5 linked regions of the Homo sapiens genome follow. The protein of the gene in region 1 purifies or fractionates together with the protein of each later gene. This does not show direct contact. Each region holds a gene or a part of one and is shown in the gene's direction. Other genes may lie near its edges.

What was found.
Region 2: the proteins of ABHD5 (region 1) and TMEM38B purify together in Homo sapiens (affinity purification with mass spectrometry; 2 studies listed by BioGRID and IntAct, with this or other methods). This does not show direct contact.
Region 3: the proteins of ABHD5 (region 1) and SARAF purify together in Homo sapiens (affinity purification with mass spectrometry; 2 studies listed by BioGRID and IntAct, with this or other methods). This does not show direct contact.
Region 4: the proteins of ABHD5 (region 1) and SKAP2 purify together in Homo sapiens (affinity purification with mass spectrometry; 2 studies listed by BioGRID and IntAct, with this or other methods). This does not show direct contact.
Region 5: the proteins of ABHD5 (region 1) and KDM4A purify together in Homo sapiens (affinity purification with mass spectrometry; one large-scale study listed by BioGRID and IntAct). This does not show direct contact.

The regions. Positions count from the first base shown.
Region 1 is NC_000003.12:43,693,929-43,697,447, forward strand, and holds part of ABHD5 (1-acylglycerol-3-phosphate O-acyltransferase ABHD5), read left to right. Parts: intron 1-3,519. UniProt on the Homo sapiens protein: Coenzyme A-dependent lysophosphatidic acid acyltransferase that catalyzes the transfer of an acyl group on a lysophosphatidic acid.
Region 2 is NC_000009.12:105,697,525-105,701,043, forward strand, and holds part of TMEM38B (trimeric intracellular cation channel type B), read left to right. Parts: intron 1-3,433; exon of another isoform or gene 3,434-3,519. UniProt on the Homo sapiens protein: Intracellular monovalent cation channel required for maintenance of rapid intracellular calcium release. Acts as a potassium counter-ion channel that functions in synchronization with calcium release from intracellular stores.
Region 3 is NC_000008.11:30,069,558-30,073,076, reverse strand, and holds part of SARAF (store-operated calcium entry-associated regulatory factor isoform 1 precursor), read left to right. Parts: intron 1-3,017; coding exon 3,018-3,435; intron 3,436-3,519. UniProt on the Homo sapiens protein: Negative regulator of store-operated Ca(2+) entry (SOCE) involved in protecting cells from Ca(2+) overfilling.
Region 4 is NC_000007.14:26,735,583-26,739,101, reverse strand, and holds part of SKAP2 (src kinase-associated phosphoprotein 2), read left to right. Parts: intron 1-223; coding exon 224-307; intron 308-3,519. UniProt on the Homo sapiens protein: May be involved in B-cell and macrophage adhesion processes. In B-cells, may act by coupling the B-cell receptor (BCR) to integrin activation. May play a role in src signaling pathway.
Region 5 is NC_000001.11:43,653,143-43,656,661, forward strand, and holds part of KDM4A (lysine-specific demethylase 4A), read left to right. Parts: 5' UTR 1-33; coding exon 34-171; intron 172-2,448; coding exon 2,449-2,624; intron 2,625-3,519. UniProt on the Homo sapiens protein: Histone demethylase that specifically demethylates 'Lys-9' and 'Lys-36' residues of histone H3, thereby playing a central role in histone code. Does not demethylate histone H3 'Lys-4', H3 'Lys-27' nor H4 'Lys-20'.

The DNA.
Region 1 (3,519 bases):
ATGTTTGTGCCTGATTCCTCAAATTTAACATGTCCAGACCATGATCTTATTTTTACCTTCCTGCTCCTAAACTAAACGATATAAAAAGCTTAGTTCTGGCCGGGCGCCGTGGTTCACGCCTGTAATCCTAGCACTTTGGGGTAACACCGTGAAACCCCGTCTGTATTAAAAATACAAAAAAATTAGCCGGGCAAGGTGGCGGCGCCTGTAGTCCCAGCTACTCGGGAGGCTGAGGCAGGAGAATGGCGTGAACCCAGGAGGCGGAGCTTGCAGTGAGCCGAGATCGTGCCACTGCACTCCAGCCTGGGCGACAGAGCAAGACTCCGTCTCAAAAAAAAAAAAAAAAAAAAAGCTCAGTTCTTCCTCTTGAAACATTATATTGGCTTAATCATTGCCTTGACTAATTGTTAGATTATTAGTTTAATCTCATGGTTCTGTAATTCCCACTCCTGATTGTGAGTTACTAAAAAAAATCATATGGAGAGGTGATTTTATTAAAACTGATTATTCAGTTGAGACCTAGGATTTTTAGTTTTATTCTCTTTATTATCTAGTGAATGAACTTATTTTAGAACTGATGCAAAGAAATGTCACTGACTTGTTAAGTAGAGTACACCTGTGGCTTCTTCAAGTGTGTTTGATAATGAGGTCATATAAGTGACTCTAAAATGGTTTGTTTACTGTGTGAAGGAAGGTAGGAAACAATGGGGAGATACGTGTTACCAGCACATGGCTTGTCTAAAACACTTATACTACCAATCTGAGTCTTTAAAAGTTACAGGTTGGGGGGGGAGGGGCAGTTAAAACAGTATTAATTAATGTGTTAACATATATTAGAGGGCCTGGATTGTCATTGATCTAATAGTGATAATTTGAATCACTTAAGTATCATTTATCCAAAATAAAATGGCATGTTAGTCACTTAAATTGTAGCTGTATGAGACCATATTCTTTTTTTTTTGTTTGTTTTCCAGAGACAGGTTCTTGCTCTGTCACCCAGGCTGGAGTGCAGTGGCACAATCATGGCTCACTGCAGCCTCAACCTCCTGGGCTCAAGCAATCCTGCCACCTCAGCAACTTGCCCCCCAGCCCCTGTATTCCACCCCCCCAAGGTTGCTGGGACTATAGGCATGTGCCAGGCGGCTGGGACTACAGGCATGTGCCAGGCAGCTGGTCTTGACCTCCTGACTGAGCTCAAGCAATCCTCCCACCTCAGCCTCCCAAAGTACGCTTTTTTCTTTTCTTTTTCTCTTTCCCAAGAATAGGATTTAAAAAGTCAATTCCCAAGAAAGGTCTTTATTTACCCAAGTGTTATAATTTCCAATTTGGATGTTTTTAGTCATTGGTTGAGGAAGTATCTCAGATAAATATAAATGTAAATATAAATAAATGTATATATTCATACCTGTAATTCATTTGGATATTTATAATAAAAATCAAAGCCTCATGGTTTCTTTAAATGAGATAGAGAGCTGTGCTTAGGTTTATCAAGAGCAATAAGTTTATGTGATTTTTCTCTCTCAACTACTAGAATAGGAATGGAGGCCATTTTAAACAAAATTTTAATATAATGAAATCCTCTTTACTTATAACCTAATTAGAAATATTAAGTGGCCAAGAGTGTATGGAAACTGGCCAGATTTCTGCATATTTTCTTCAGAATACTTCGAAACCTCTTTCACTGTTTCATAATGTTTATAGATTGTGCAATTCAGGTTTAGTAATACTGTAGATAGACAGATGTGTTAAAGAACAAAACAGAGATTACCAGGAAACTTAAGTGTTGATAGTATGGAGTATAAGTATGACATAATATTTTTTTAGAAGGATTACGTAAAAAGTTAATGGAAAAAGTGGTGTCTATCTCTCACTCAGGATACTTAAAGTCAGATTCTTAGGTAAAATATACTCTATTAATATGTTAAGCACATCTTACTTGGCTTTCCTTAGAATTGTCACCTCTGATGTGATCTTTTATAACTTTTCTTACTCAAAAGTCTGCTCACTAAAAAGATTCTTAGTTTGCACTACAATGGTTGTAAAACAAGAATCCTTTCTTTTTTTGTTTTTGTTTCTGTGATTAGATGCTTTAGGGCTTATATCCTTTGCCTTGCTAATAAGGTAAGTGCCCAACTGATGGGGCTGTGTAGAAAACTTTTTGGCTTGCATTGGTAAGCTTTCCCCATGTCATAGATGCTTACTATTAGAAAGCTATAGTTCCTGTGGTGAATGACTTCTCTTTGTATTACAGTTGACACTTTGGTCACTGTTGAATTTAGGCCTCAGTGATGGATGATAGTGTTTATTGCTTGTCTCCTTAAATAAAATAGAGAAGTTAGGTTTTGCTTTTCTATTTATTTTCCAAAGCTATGAGGAAGAGGCATTGAATCTAGTTTACTGTTTTATAGGTGGGCTGTGTGAATTTAATTTTTGCCTTGAATTTTGTGACCTCAGAAGAATGGCAGAATATCTGACAAGCTTCAGTCCTGTGTCCTTAGTTCCAGTCTTCTATATACTAAACCTAGGAATGCTGAGCAACACTGAATGGCATAGGATACCACTGGGGAGGGGGCAAAGGGTCTCTTTGAAGGTGAGATTAATTTATCCCGAAGACAGGAGGTAGAGTTGGATGGGTAAGTTTTAAAGGGTTGAAGCAATAGAGGTTGCAAGGTAAGGTATGAGACCTTTGAACAAACAGGAATCAACTAAAGGGTGGAAAAGATAAGGCCCTTGCTTTTTACTCATTGGAAATGTTCCTTGAAGCCTATTATGTATATAACACTTAATCCTGTAGAGTGTCTCAAAGAAGCAGAGGATAGTTTCTGTAAAACATTTAATCATCTGGTTAAAGTGAAACTGGACAGAAGCATTATCAGGGCTTAGGGGAAGAGTGCTATCTTTACAATTCCATTAAGAGTAAAAATATCTTGCTATGTTTTGTTAAATATATATTTTTCTGTTAGAAAAAAACCCACTTTAAAAAATCACCTGTTTTGATGAAAATGCTTCTGTGAAAACCTGAAGAGAGTTGGTGCCTCTTCTTATGGTTGAAGATCCCTACTTTTTAATGTAAGCTTACAAACATGAAAACATGTTTTGCCCCTTCTCTGAGTTGAGCTGGTCACTAGAAGGCAAATCCATGGACAGACAGTCCCATTGTTTGAAAGCTGGTTTTGTGGTAAGTGGTAAGTTGGTGGAGGTAGGCATGATTCTTCCATTACAGGCTGGTATGTAACTTTTTAAACACTGGTGCTTTGTACATAGTAGGTATTCAGTGTCTGAATTATTTTTTGAGTGTCGTTTTTTAAAAAAGTATCCTTTTTTAATGCAAAGAATGCATTTGTGTTTTCTTTGCCCCAGTTTGTCTGTGATATCAACTGGAGCAATAGTAGCTTATACTTCATTTCACTGTAATTTTTTTTAATTGACCTCTGATTCTCTCTGGCAAATAATTGTGATATGGTTCGAGGGATGTTTGTTTAAGACAATGGATGAGATTGAGTTGTAAGTAATTTCTTG
Region 2 (3,519 bases), on another chromosome or scaffold:
ATGTGTTTGTGCCTCTTATTGGTCATTTGTATTTCATGTAAATTGCTTAATTTTTTTTTGTCCATTTTCTTATTGGGCTGTAGGTTATTGTCTTCTATTTACTGTCTTTGTGGATCATGGATATTCATTCTATTTATGTCTGTAGTCCTTTTTTCCCATAACTCTTGCTATCTTTAACTTTGTTTATATTGTCTTTTATTGCAGAAGTTTAAAAAATCTCATAATATTTTTACTTTTCCATGAAAAAATCTATTAATTTTTTTCTCCTATGTCACTATTGGGATTTGTGCATTTTAAGAAGGGGTTTCTCAGGCCTAAGGTTATAAAAATACTCGTCCTTGATCTTTTTTTAAAAAATTCTATAGTTCTATAAAAGTATAGGTTCGTAATCTATCTGCAGTATTTTTTGTTGTATAGATGTTCCTTTGCAAGTCTGGTCATGGCTGGATAGAACAGTTGGAACTCAATGATCTCAGCAGAGTATGCTCTATGCTCATTGAACTGGTTCTGCTCTAGACCTTTACTAAGATCATCCCACGTGCATAGACCTCTGGAATGTCCTTAGTTCTTGTTTGTTTTCTTTAGCGTCCCATTTTTTTTTTTTCTGTGAGCTACTGAAGTCCTTCCAATGAATTCTTTATGGCTTAAGTTTGTTGGTTTTTGCTGCTTGTAGCCAAGAACCCGGGTTCCATTTCTTTTTCTAGCCTCTTATATATTAAAGAGTGTTTTGTTGAATACTAATGATAGTGAGTGACTTTGTCTTACTCCTGATATTCCTGAATTTAATGAGAATGCTTTTAAAGTTTTCTCAAGAGTGATGTTTGCTATAGGTTTTTATGAGGGACACTTTAAGGAAGTTTTACTTTATTCCCAACTTTCTAGGATATCCCTATATCTTTACACCATCCTGGTGGAGAAGGTGACATATTTTATCAAGTGCTATTTTTTTTTCAAAATCTATTGAGATCATATTGTGTTTCCCATTTAAAAATGTAATGTAGTGAATTACATTATTACGTTTTTTAAAAAATGATGAATCATCCTTATATTCTTGGACTAAACTACTTGATACATTATTTTAATTCATTAGGGATTTTGATTTGGCAGTACTTCATGTAAAATTTTTGCATTTATGTTTATAATAGAAATGAGCCTATTAGGTTATTTTATTGTGTGACCCTCAGTTTGGGCCCAAGGTTATGCTGTTTTTGTAAAATAGATTGGGAAGCTTTCCATTTTTTAAGCTTGGAATGGTTTATTTAATAGGCATTGCTTGTTCTTTGATATTTGGTAGACTTCAACTATGTAGTTTTATGTTTCTTGGTATATTTTAATGGGTAAATCTTATTTTTTTTCCAATCCAGACCTAAGTCATTTTGGTAATTTATGTCTCTCTCAGGAATCATCTATTTCTTTTAGACTTCCAAGTCTATTGGAGTAAATGTTTACATTATATTGTAGAAAATTTCTCTGGATTCTTTGGTAGTTAATTCTTAAATGTTATCTATTTCACTTGAATCTTCTGGATCTTAATCACTTTATGTCCTATGGTAATTTTTTTACACTCCATATATGTCTTTTTTTCTTCTAACTCATTTTGAATAAGATACATTTGTTCAGGCTCAGTAGATGGAGTGAGTAGCTTGTATTACTCTCTATTTATGTGGTCAGCATTCCTTTTTCATAGTCAGAACTGAAGCTAATATGTGTGTACTCCTCCTACTCCAACACCACTTCTTTTAGATTTTTACTTAGAATATGTATGCATTACTTAATTGGCAACTTTTTCCTATCCCCCCAGTGATTGATTCTCTAGAACTCACACCTACAGTAAACTGTAATTCTCATATATCCTACTGCCAGAGTTCTTCATATATTTACCCTCTCAGACGTGTTACTCCTTGAGACTTTATTTTGGTATGCACTCTGCCACTAACAATACCTCACTCCGTACTTTCCCACCATTTATATCGGATCTTTTGTACTGTCTGCCTAGATCTTAAACAATGCCACCAGAAGCAAAATGATAAAGGGGATTAACTCTTTTCTGCCTAAGGTGTGAAGGACTGCATCCCATTTTTGTTTGGTTCAGGTTTTCGGCTTTAAAATCCCAGGAAAGATAATACTCCTCCAGCCTTCTATGTAACTTTTGCTTCATAAGCAAAGACATAAAAGACATCAGGTAATACAACAAGTGGGATTAATTTTTTCTTTGTTTACCTCCATTTGTCTCGTGAACAAACATGTGAATCCTCCTGAACCCTTGCGTGTGATTGGCTATAGTTTTCAGTTTGGGCTGATAGTATAAGTTTTTTTTGTTTGTTTGTTTTTCTTTTCTCTGTCTCCTGGGCATTTTATTAGGAAGTTGGAATATGCTGTTTTGGTGGTTGCTAGTGAGAAGCCATTTTAACAGGAAGTTTACATCATTACTTTTAATCTATCTTATCTTACATTTTAAATGTCTCTTAAGTCTTCATTAAAATAAACACATTTCTTCAATCCTACATTCACATCAAACCACCATTTTGTGTAAGACTTCCTGACTACAGTAATTTCTATTACACACAAAATGTATTGTTTTACTCTAAATTCTGCCATGACTATTCTGCTAACCTCTCTGAAGTCATACATAATTAATTTTAGCAAATATTCATTGAAACTCTGTATTGGGCATTATATTAGATGTTTAGGATACCGCCATGAAAGATGCTGTTATAGCCCTAAAGAGACTTATTGGTGCTTTTTCTTTATTTTTGATAGTGTCACATAAGGTTGCACTACCTTTTCTACACAATAATAGTAGCCATCATTGATTTTAGATACTGGGAGAACATTTCAGTATGTTAATTCTATTCCTCACACATTCCTGTAAGGTAGGTATTATTTAACTCATTTTATAGATGAGGAATAGTTTTAAGGGATAAAATAACCTCCCTTAAGTCACATGGTTTAGTAAATTATGGAGCTAGTTCTTGACTCCAGATCTGGTTCATTCCAAAATTTCTTACTATTCTGTGCCTTATCTTTGCATGACCATTTACTGTTCCTGGTTTCAATAATTAGCAATTTCTCAATAAGGTGTCACTTGACATGGTTATTTTCTCCAATGATTTCTGTCGTTTCTATGAATTAAATCCTGGAATAAAGTTTGTCATTGTTCCTTTCCTGTAATTTGTGGGAGATGAAAGTTTGTAAGTCTAGGATTTATCAGTTCTGGGCATCCTGGAAAGGTGACAGCAGTGGTGGCAGCTGAGTTTTGCAATATCTTTATGAGTCCCCATGTAAAAACAGGGAAAAGTGCAAAAGTCATAAATGTACAGCTCAGTGGATTTTCAAACACACCCATATGCAGATAAAAATAGAACATTTATGACACTCCCCAAAGCCCCTTTGTTACATGATTTAAAGAGCCAGAGGCCATGTGCACGGGTTCACATGGCCTGTGGAGGAAACACCTGAGCAGTGTTTCCTCCACAGGGGTCTCAGTCTGGGCTCTAAAGAGCTCCTCCACCAAGTTTC
Region 3 (3,519 bases), on another chromosome or scaffold:
CCAGTACTGCTAAGTTGAATCATAGAATTCTCTGGGTTATAGCAGAAGTCTCACTCCACTTTACTTATGACTTTTAGAGTCTTGATGGGAAAAAAAGGCAGTAATGGTGATGTCATTCATTAAGCATGTATTAATTGCAATATACAAAAATGAATAAGGTAGAATGAAGAAACTGTCTTACTAGTAGAAGAGGTAAGACAGGCACTCAGATTACATGTAGGTCCCAACACAACATTATAAAGTCACGTCTGGTTGGAGCCATTGGGACTTAAAGGATGAGACATTTGTGCTGTGTTAGGAAGGAATGATAACATTTTTAGAGAGGAAAGGCTAGAGAAGGGAATAGCATGAGCAAAGGAGTGTTGAGCATATCATACATTGGCTTATGTTTAGTAGCAGGAGAGAGGCCATTTAGTAGCAGGACAGAAACTCCTTCTATTCCAAGAGTTGAAATTTAAATACAGTACTTAGAAGCTACTTGTAAGTACGCATGATTAAGGAAGTGGTAGTTAACATGAAATACCAATACAAGTTTAGCTTGTTTTATTTACCTAAGTCAACAAACCTATGAATCTTCCTCCAAATAAAATTATTTTAAAAACAGTGTAGTAACAGCAACAAAAGAAAAACTGCATCTTATCCAAATGAAAAACTTTTGACTATCAAAGGACATCATCAAGAAAGTGAAAAGACAACCTACAGAATGGGAGGAAGCTTAGCAAATCATAATTGGTGAGGGACTTGTATTTAGAATATAAAATAACTCTTACAACTCAGTAAGAAAACAACCAAGGTAAAAATGGCAGAGCATCTGAATAGACATTTCTACAAGGAAGATATATAAGTAATAAATAAGCACATGAAAAGTGTTCCTTATTATTAGCCATCAGAGAAATGCAAATCAAAGCCACAGTAAGATACCACTTCACACTCAGTAGGAAGGCTATAATAAAAAAGATAACAAGGCTGGTGAGGATGTCGAGAAATTGGAACCCTCATACACTGCTGTTGGGAATGTGAAATGGTCCAGCTGCTTTGGAAAATTGGCAGTTCCTCAAAAGTTTAAATGTAGAGTTACCATGTATGCCTCAGTCATTCCACTCCAAGGTATATACACCCAAGAGAATTGAAAACACATGTCCACACAAAAACTTGCATACAAATATACATAGCAGCATTATTCATAATAGCCAAAAAGTAGAAACAATTCAAATGTCCATTACTAATGAACGATAAATAAAAGTGGTATATCCATGCAAAGAAATATTATTTAGCCATAAAAAAGTGAAATAGTAATACATGCTACAACGTGGATGAATCTTGAAAATGTTATGCTAAGTGAAAGAAGCCAGTCACAAAAGACCACATATTGTATTATTACATTCCTGTGAACTGTCCATTTAGGGAAATCCATATAGACAGAAAGTTGGTTGGGAGGTGTGCGGCGGGAGAATGGAGAGTGACTGCTAATGGGCACAATATTTCTTTGGGGTGACGAAAATATTCTAAAATTGATTGTGGTGACAGTAGCACAACTGTGAATATACTAAAACCATTGAAATGGGTGAATTGTATGGTATGTGTGAATTATATTTCAATAAGGCTATTATAAATGAAGTAAAATAGTGTGAACTTTGAAAGAGGAAAATAATTTGTACAAAAATTTGCAGAAGGGCAACAGAACCAATTAAATCTACTTTAGCTTGTGTCTTTTTTCATTTTTTTTGAGACGGAGTCTCCCTCTGTCACCCAGTCTGGAGTACAGTGCAGTGACATGATCTTGGCTCACTGCAACCTCTGCCTCTGGGTTCAAGTCGTTCTCCTGCCTCAGCCTCTATTTTTGAAGTAGCTGGGATTACAGGCGCCTGCCACCATGCCCACCTCATTTTTGTATTTTTCGTAGAGATGGGGTTTTGCCATTTTGGCCAGGCTGTTCTTGAACTCCTGACCTCAGGTGATCCGCCCACCTTGGCCTCCCAAAGTGCTGGGATTACAAGCATGAACCACCGCGCCTGGCCTTTAGCTTGTATCTTAAGAGTTAAAGAAGCATATTGCTTTTTCCACCACAAAATATAGAATCTAGACCAAACTTGGGCATATATTTTTTTATAAGGTGGACATTTTTGGGGCTAGCCTGGGTTCTTTTTGCATTTTTCTAAATATCTTTAAAAAATACAAGAGAATTACATAGAATTGGACCTTGGAAAGTTAGTCCATGGTTTTATAAAATTTGTGTAGAAAAGTTTTTTTCTCTGAAGGTTATGTAATATCTCTGTTGCTTTGTGTAGCTACCAGACATTCATATATGATGCTGTTTTGAGCCTTAACATCTTTTAAGAAATCTGGATTTTTAAAGAAAGCATCTTGAACAACAGTGGCAAAAAGTTGACATTTTGGCAGTTTGCTTAAATTTTATAAATTGTAGAATACTTAATATGTTCAGATGGATATATAACATGTATATGTAAAGAATAGTAATAAAACGAATACTCATATACGCAATATCCAGCATAAGAAGTAGAACACAGATACCACCATTATCTTTGAAGCCCCTCATTTTCCTTCCCTTAGACATGAATACTTACCATTGTGAATTTTGCGGATCATTCCCTTGCTTCATTTTGCAATTTTATGACGGATATATAGCCCAAGTAACATTTTTTTTTTTCTTGAGACGGAGTCTTGCTCTGTTGCTCAGGCTAGAGTGCAATCACGATCTCAGCTCACTGCAACCTCCACCTCCCAGGTTCAAGTGATTCTCCTGCCTCAGCCTCCTTAGTAGCTGGGATTATAGGCGCCTGCCACTGCGCCTGGCTAATTTTTGTATTTTTAATAAAGATGGGGTTTCACCATCTTGGCCAGGCGGGTCTTGAACTCCTGACCGCGTGATCCACCCGCCTTGGCCTCCGAAAGTGCTGAGATTACAGGTGTGAGCCACTGCGCCCGGCCCCCAAGTAACATATATTAAATGAAAAAAATGTTTGTTTCTAATAGTCTGTTTCTATTTTTCTTCACAGTGGGAATGTAAGACGGACTTAGATATTGCATACAAATTTGGAAAAACTGTGGTGAGCTGTGAAGGCTATGAGTCCTCTGAAGACCAGTATGTACTAAGAGGTTCTTGTGGCTTGGAGTATAATTTAGATTATACAGAACTTGGCCTGCAGAAACTGAAGGAGTCTGGAAAGCAGCACGGCTTTGCCTCTTTCTCTGATTATTATTATAAGTGGTCCTCGGCGGATTCCTGTAACATGAGTGGATTGATTACCATTGTGGTACTCCTTGGGATCGCGTTTGTAGTCTATAAGCTGTTCCTGAGTGACGGGCAGTATTCTCCTCCACCGTACTCTGAGTATCCTCCATTTTCCCACCGTTACCAGAGATTCACCAACTCAGCAGGACCTCCTCCCCCAGGCTTTAAGTCTGAGTTCACAGGTATGTTTCCCTCGCAGTGGCCATAAATAGAGCGGGTGTGAGGTTAGTGCATCCTGTGCTTGGTTCTGAAATAGAAAATCGTTG
Region 4 (3,519 bases), on another chromosome or scaffold:
TTAGCCATGCTGTTGATCCCATAAGTATGGCAGCCCCATAGCTACTTTACTTTATTCCCTTTAGCTGTGTTGGTTTGTTGTTGTTTGGTTTTTTGTCTCTTGGAAAAGAAGATACAAATTAGTCACACAATGTTAGAGCTCAGAGGAATCTTAGAAATCATATTAATTAACTTTTTCTTTTACAGTAAGGAAATGGCCTTACATTTTCCCCTCTTTATTGCAGATCACAGCTTTCTGGGATTTGAATGGCAGAAACGGTGGTGTGCTCTCAGTAAAACGGTATTCTATTATTATGGAAGTGATAAAGGTAATGTTGGTGTTCAATTATATCAACTACTATTGCAAAAGAATTTTTGGCCATCCCTTCCCCCTCTTTTGAGTACAGAGTAAACTGAAGACAAACTAATAATAACTGAGAATTATAACAATTATAATCTGACTAATTTATGATTCATTTCATTATTTGACAAATGCTCCAAATACCAGAATACCCTCAGAGCTAAAACAATTGTGTTGTATTGAATTAGAAAAGAGAGTAAAATAACTTTAATCTGTGTGGCCTTTCACCTTAGGGAATATTTATTATCCAGCCTACTGTTGTAGAATTTCTGGAAAAGTTAAGAACATAGGGTTGTGAGAGTTTCAATGGCAGAAAATAGATTATTTTTCTTAAATATTTTAAAATAAAATTAGATAAAATTAAATACGAACAGCACCTTTCTGAGCTCCCTTTACAGATTTAAGGAATAACAGCAAACGTGTACATAGAATTTACTATATACTGGGCACCGTTCTAAGCACTTTGTCTAAGTACGTTAGCTATGTTAACTTGTTTAGCTCACAACAACTCTGTAAGTACTATTATTAGCACCATTAATTTGACTTTTAGGAAAACTGAGAACAGAGAGGTTAAGTGACTTGTTCAAGGTCACAGAGTTGGAAAATGGCAGATCTAGGAATTTGTTTTTCCTTTGTTTTTAGAAACAGGGTCTTGTCTCGGTGCCTAGGCTGGAGAGCTGTGACTGTTCACAGGTGTAGTCATCACACCCTGCAGCCTCAAACTCCTGGGCTCAAGTGATCTTCCTGTCTCAGTCTCCCAGGTAGCTGGGATTACAGGTGCACACCGCTGTACCCAGCTCAAATTTGGGATTTTAACCTAGAGAATATGGTTAGAGTCCATGTTCTCAACCACTATTGTCACTACATTAATTTAGAAATAATAGGATACATTTTATAACTTCATTGTTAATTAATAAATCTCTCAGTTGTAGTTCACATAATTTTAAGATTGTTATTTGAACAAATAAAGCCACCAAATAATGAAATTTAAAGATTGTAAGCTTTCTGAGTTTTGTTTTATTCTGGGGAAAACAGGCTAGGAGTTGAATATTATAAAGTAAAGGTTGTATCAAAATAGATAATGTTCATTTCCAGAAAGGACACTTTAAGAAGAAAAAGGCAAAAGTATCACTGAATGTAAGCTTTCCTATGGAATTGTTATCAGTGTTGTTTGGAAATTTATGTTTTATTTGACATTATTTATAGTTTTTAGAGTTTTTTCCCCCATTCTAAAAACATACAGGTAAGATTGTCATATTTCAGATAAGTCTGAAATACTTACATAATGCTGGAAGTTGTTCTTACCTTTTGGCTAATGAGATTAACAAATTAATTAATTTAGTAGCTAGTTTGCATTCCATCACTAATTTACAGTATGTTCAGATGTAGTAATGGCATCAGTGAAGTGTAAACTGTAAACAGCTATAAACAAGCATCTTTCTTCTGCTAAGGGTCAGTAGTGAAGTAGGTCAGAAAATTTAGAGTCCAAGTTCAGTTACGATTATCACAGATCATAGAAATATAGTTTTGTATGATATTGTGAATTTAGATCGAGATACTACCTTCCACAAAATATCCTCTTTTTCACCAGACCAGGGGAGGGAGGTTTCAGATCCTTGTGACTTTGATTCAATTAGGCTTCTCATTTCTAATTTCTTTAAGAATCAATGAATACTAATGTCAGTGTTTCCTCCATTTCTAGTCCTGACTGGCATATAACAATGGTTAGGTCAAAGATTAGCAAGAGTTTCCCCAAAACCCAAAGCGTGTTAATATTTACTTCAAACACTAATATATTCAATGAAAACATTTTAGTTAGAGTTATTTAGATATTAGTTACATTCCTTTTTTTTTTTTTCTTTTTAGAGATGCGGGGGCCTCACTCTGTCACCCAAGCTGGAGTGCAGTGGTGCCATCATAGCTTACTGCAATCTTGAATTCCTGAGTTCATTTTTATTCTTATTTGATGAGACCTAATGGTAGTAACATTGTTTGTAATTTGCATTTTAACTACTTTGTGATCCATTTAGCCCTTTCTGTCATTTCTGTTACTGGAAGGGGGTCTTGATCCAGACCCCAGGAGAGGGTTCTTGGATCTCATGCAAGAAAGAATTTGAGGCCAATCCGTAGAGGGAAGTGAAAGCAAGTTTATTAAGAAAGTAAAGAAACAAAAGAATCACTACTCCATAGGCAAAGCAGAGCATAGGCTGCTCAGCTGCTTACACTTATTGTTACTTCTTGATTATATGCTAAACAGGCAGTGGATTATTCATGAGTTTTCCTGAACTGGGGTTGGCAATTCTCAGAACTGAGGGTTTCTCCCCCTTTTTAAGCCATATAGGGTAACTTCCTGATGTTGCCATGGCATTTGTAAACTATCATGGCACTGGTAGGAGTGTCTTTTAGCATGCTAATGCGTTATAATTAGCATATAATGAGCAGTGAGGAAAACCAAAGGTCATTTTCATCACCATCTTGATTTTGGTGGGTTTTGGCCAGTTGCTTTCCTGCATCCTTTTATCAGCAAGGTCTTTGTGATCTGTACCTTGTGCCAACCTCCTATCTCATCATGTGACTAAGAATGCCTAACCTCCTGGGAATGCAGCCCCCATAGGTCAAAGCCTTATTTTACTCAGCCCCTATTCAAGACGGAGTTGCTCTGGTTTAAAAGCCTCTGACACTTCCACTTTAAAAAAATTACCATTTTAGCATTCCTTTTTCATGTTGATGTCTGAAGATGTGGCTTGTGTTTCCTTAAATTTTTCCCTTTTACTTTGCAGCCTCCTGTTTCCAGTGAAATTTTAGATTTGTTTCTTGTGGTTCTTTTTTCTATTGGCGGTTTCATTCGAAATTTTTAGCCAGTTCCTCTCTTTTAAGGGACTCCAAAAAAAGATCTGTCTTTAGACAGTTTTTAATTACTTGTTTGGCATGATCCCGATTTCCTTCCTTTATATCTTTTTCTTACCAGGAAAATATGTCAAATAATTTTTTTCTTTTGTGAAATTAGATATGATTTTTTATAGCCTTGTTTACTGTATGTGTGAACCATTTACCTAATGGGAAGAACTCATATCTAGCTATATGAGAACTATAATCCTCCAACTAAGTAGGATTTAGATAAATGGATTATAGAGGCACAGAAGGAGTTGACACCACTTACTAGGTTAAACTGTGCTTTGT
Region 5 (3,519 bases), on another chromosome or scaffold:
GTCTGACTAAAGGGACCTCAAAAAGGAGGGAAAATGGCTTCTGAGTCTGAAACTCTGAATCCCAGTGCTAGGATAATGACCTTTTATCCAACTATGGAAGAGTTCCGAAACTTCAGTAGATACATTGCCTACATTGAATCCCAAGGAGCTCATCGGGCAGGGCTAGCCAAGGTAAGGAGCTGGGATTGTTCAAATGGTTTTGTTACCTAGGGCAGAGCAGTAAGATTTTTTTCCTACATTTGGGCCGGAACTGTGTTTTACTGAAAGTTGGGTGGGGTGATGACTTTAGTGAATGCGGTTCTATTTGCAAGTTAATTCCCGTTGTTAACATCAGAAGCATCTCTGCTTTTAGGTAGGAAGAGAGCTACTTGGAATCTTCAGAAAGGGGGAGGTAAAGAGCTAGTGTCTCCAGGCCTGGCTGCTGTTGTGCCTCAGCCCTCTTGGTGGAGCTGGGTGCTGTGGTGTTATTGAACTGCCAGTGAGTGCTTATGCCATCTGACTTCTCTTGCTCTCATTTCAGTCTCATCCAGCACTCTAGTAGCAATTTGGCTTCCCATGTGGACTTTCTTCAAGGGGAGAGAATGCACTGGCCAGCCAACATGAGTATTCTGGTCCTTGTAATTTGAAATTGGTTTCTGGTTTGTACTTCTTTCTCCTGTGAGTTGGATTCGTTATTTTTCCTGAGTCAAATCAGCTTTTCATATATTCTGTCACAATCAGGTTGAGTGCTGGAAGCTGAAAGAACTGCATTTCTGGAGAGATCCTCAGGAAACTGAGAGGCAGGGACCTCAGTCTAAGCCAGGAGGAAATTTTTTACACCATTTTATGTTGTTTGAATTCCCTACCATATGTGCTTGTTACATTTTCAATATGAAAAGAGAAAGCAAGAACATTGGCTACAAAGCTGAGGACCAGTCTTGGACCCTGGTGCCTCCAGAGACTTGAGACGACCACATCCTCTTTCTTATCTGCAGATACGGCTACTGCTGGGTTAATAACAGCAGGCGGGAATAGCAGGGCCTGCAGTGCAGTTTTTCATAGCACATTGCTTTTTTTGGTTGTACTTTATTAGATTTAAAGTTACCAAAAAAATGTCGGTTATTACAAGTTAAATATTTCAAACGCAGATAAAGAAAAGGCTGATCTTCATCCACCTTCTCCAGTGCCGTCTCCTTAAGTGGTATTAGCTCCCTCCACACCTTTTTCTCTGCTCATACAAACATACACACATATAAAATAGTGTTATTTGTTTTGTTTTTAAAAGAGAATGGCATCATGCCATATACATTCCTGTGTTGGTTCGTTCATTCTTTTTTCTTTTTTTTTTTCTTTTTTCCTTTTTAACAACATATATTCCTCCCTCTAGGTCAATTATGGATTCAACTCATTCTTCTTTTTTCTCATGTCGACTGTCTTGTTAATTTATTACTATTGGAATGGGTAATTTGATTATGTGAGTAAAAACAGAATGCTATTGGAAGGTAGCTAATGTAGAGTCTTGCTCCCTTTCCGTATTTTCTTATATGTCCTTTCAGTGTTGCCTTATGCAGATGCTTGTGAGTGTGTGTGTGTGTGTGTGTGTGTGTGTGTGTGTGTGTTGTTTTCTCCCTTGTTACATAAAGTAAAACAATACTCTCTAATTAAAAAAAAAAAAGCTGTATAGTATTCCATAAAGCAGATCTATCTTACTTAACTATTCAAGATTAGATTTTTTTTGTTTTTTTTTGAGATGGAGTTTCGCTCTTGTTACCCCAGCTGGAGTGCAATGGCGCAATCTTGGCTCACTGCAACCTCTGCCTCCGGGTTCAAGCGATTCTCCTGCATCAGCCCCCCAAATAGCCGGGATTATAGTTGAGTGCCACCACACCAGGCTAATTTTTGTGTTTTTAGTAGAGATGGGGTTTCACCATGTTGGCCAAGCTGATCTCAAACTCTGACCTCAGGTGATCCACCTGCCTCGGCCTCCCAAAGTGCTGGGATTACCGGCATGAGCCACTGTGCCCGGCCTCAAGATTAGATTTTTAAGAATGTTATGCTTCTTTGTAATTAAACTGTAATCTAGTGTGTGAAAAAAGGAAATTCTGTACAAGTATAGAGTTGACCAAATCAAGTAAAGTTGTGTTTGTGATTTTTTTAAAGAGAGCCCTGGGCTAGGAGATTGAGAGAGAATCAAGTCTTTAATCTCCTTTCTTGGTGTCCAAATAAGATACTGAAGCTGGGAACAAGTATTACTTACCTTAGGTTGCTGCAATTAGGCAGCTGGTTGGTGGCAAAAGTGGATCAGGGTTAGCATGCCTGTGACTTACTGTGTTTTGGTGAATGTGGGTAAATCAAAGTAACTGTCTAGTAAAATTGACTGTTAGGTTGGCTGGTAACTACATGCTTCCTGGACTCTGACTGGCTTGCCAGGTTTCTCATCTGTCTTTTTGTTTCTTGTGTTCCCTTCAGGTTGTTCCTCCAAAAGAGTGGAAGCCACGAGCATCCTATGATGACATTGATGATTTGGTCATTCCTGCCCCCATTCAACAGCTGGTGACGGGGCAGTCTGGCCTCTTTACTCAGTACAACATACAGAAGAAAGCCATGACTGTTCGAGAGTTCCGCAAGATAGCCAATAGCGATAAGTGAGTGGAAACCCTTTCTTACCTGACATAGCACCTAGGACCCTGGTGTCTCATCCTCCTAGCATCTCCAGGACTGCTGCTGTCCTGATGAACAGTGTCTTCAGCAGGATGGCTCTGTTCTAGCTGTCTCCCTTTCTGCTTTTTTTATGGAAGCATTCCCTCCTCTCAGGACTGTGTCCCAGTCTAAACCTGTTCCTGTTCTTATAACAACAAATCCCATTGTTTTTCCATCAGAAGTAGAATCATTTTCTGACTCTAAAGTTGCAAGGAGAAAGTTGGATGTGGTGCACAAGGAGCTTTTGCTGGGTATTATCAACCACCTGCTCATCAAAAGTGCTTTAGTTCCACTTCCTCTCTCTCGGGATGCTCTGTGTTTAATTGTGCTGGAATTTCTCACTGCCCATCCAGCCTGCTAGCTCATTTCTGTTTTGACATTAACAGTGTGAGTAAACCACCAAGCTGGTTGCTATTTTCTGTCACTCCTTCTTTCTCTGTACATTCCTGTCTCTTTTAGAGATATCTTTCTTTGTGTAGGCCTGTTTTCAGTTCTTCTCTGCTGTTGGTTTTTTTTTTTTTTTTTTTTTTTTTTGAGATGGTGTCTCACTTTATTGCCCAGGCTGGAGTGCAGTGGAGTGATCTTGGCTCACTGCAACCTCTGTCTCCCAGGTTCACGTGATTCTCCTGCCTCAGCCTCCCAAGTAGCTGGGACTACAGGCACGCGCCACCATGCTTGGCTATTTTTTGTATTTTCAGTAGAGACAGGGTTTCGCCACATTGGCCAGGCTGGTCTTGAACTCCTGACCTCAAGTGATCCTCCTGCCTTGGCCTCCCAAAGTGCTGGGATTACAGGCAAGAGCCACCACTCCTGGCCCTTCTCCGCTGTTTTTAATGTTTA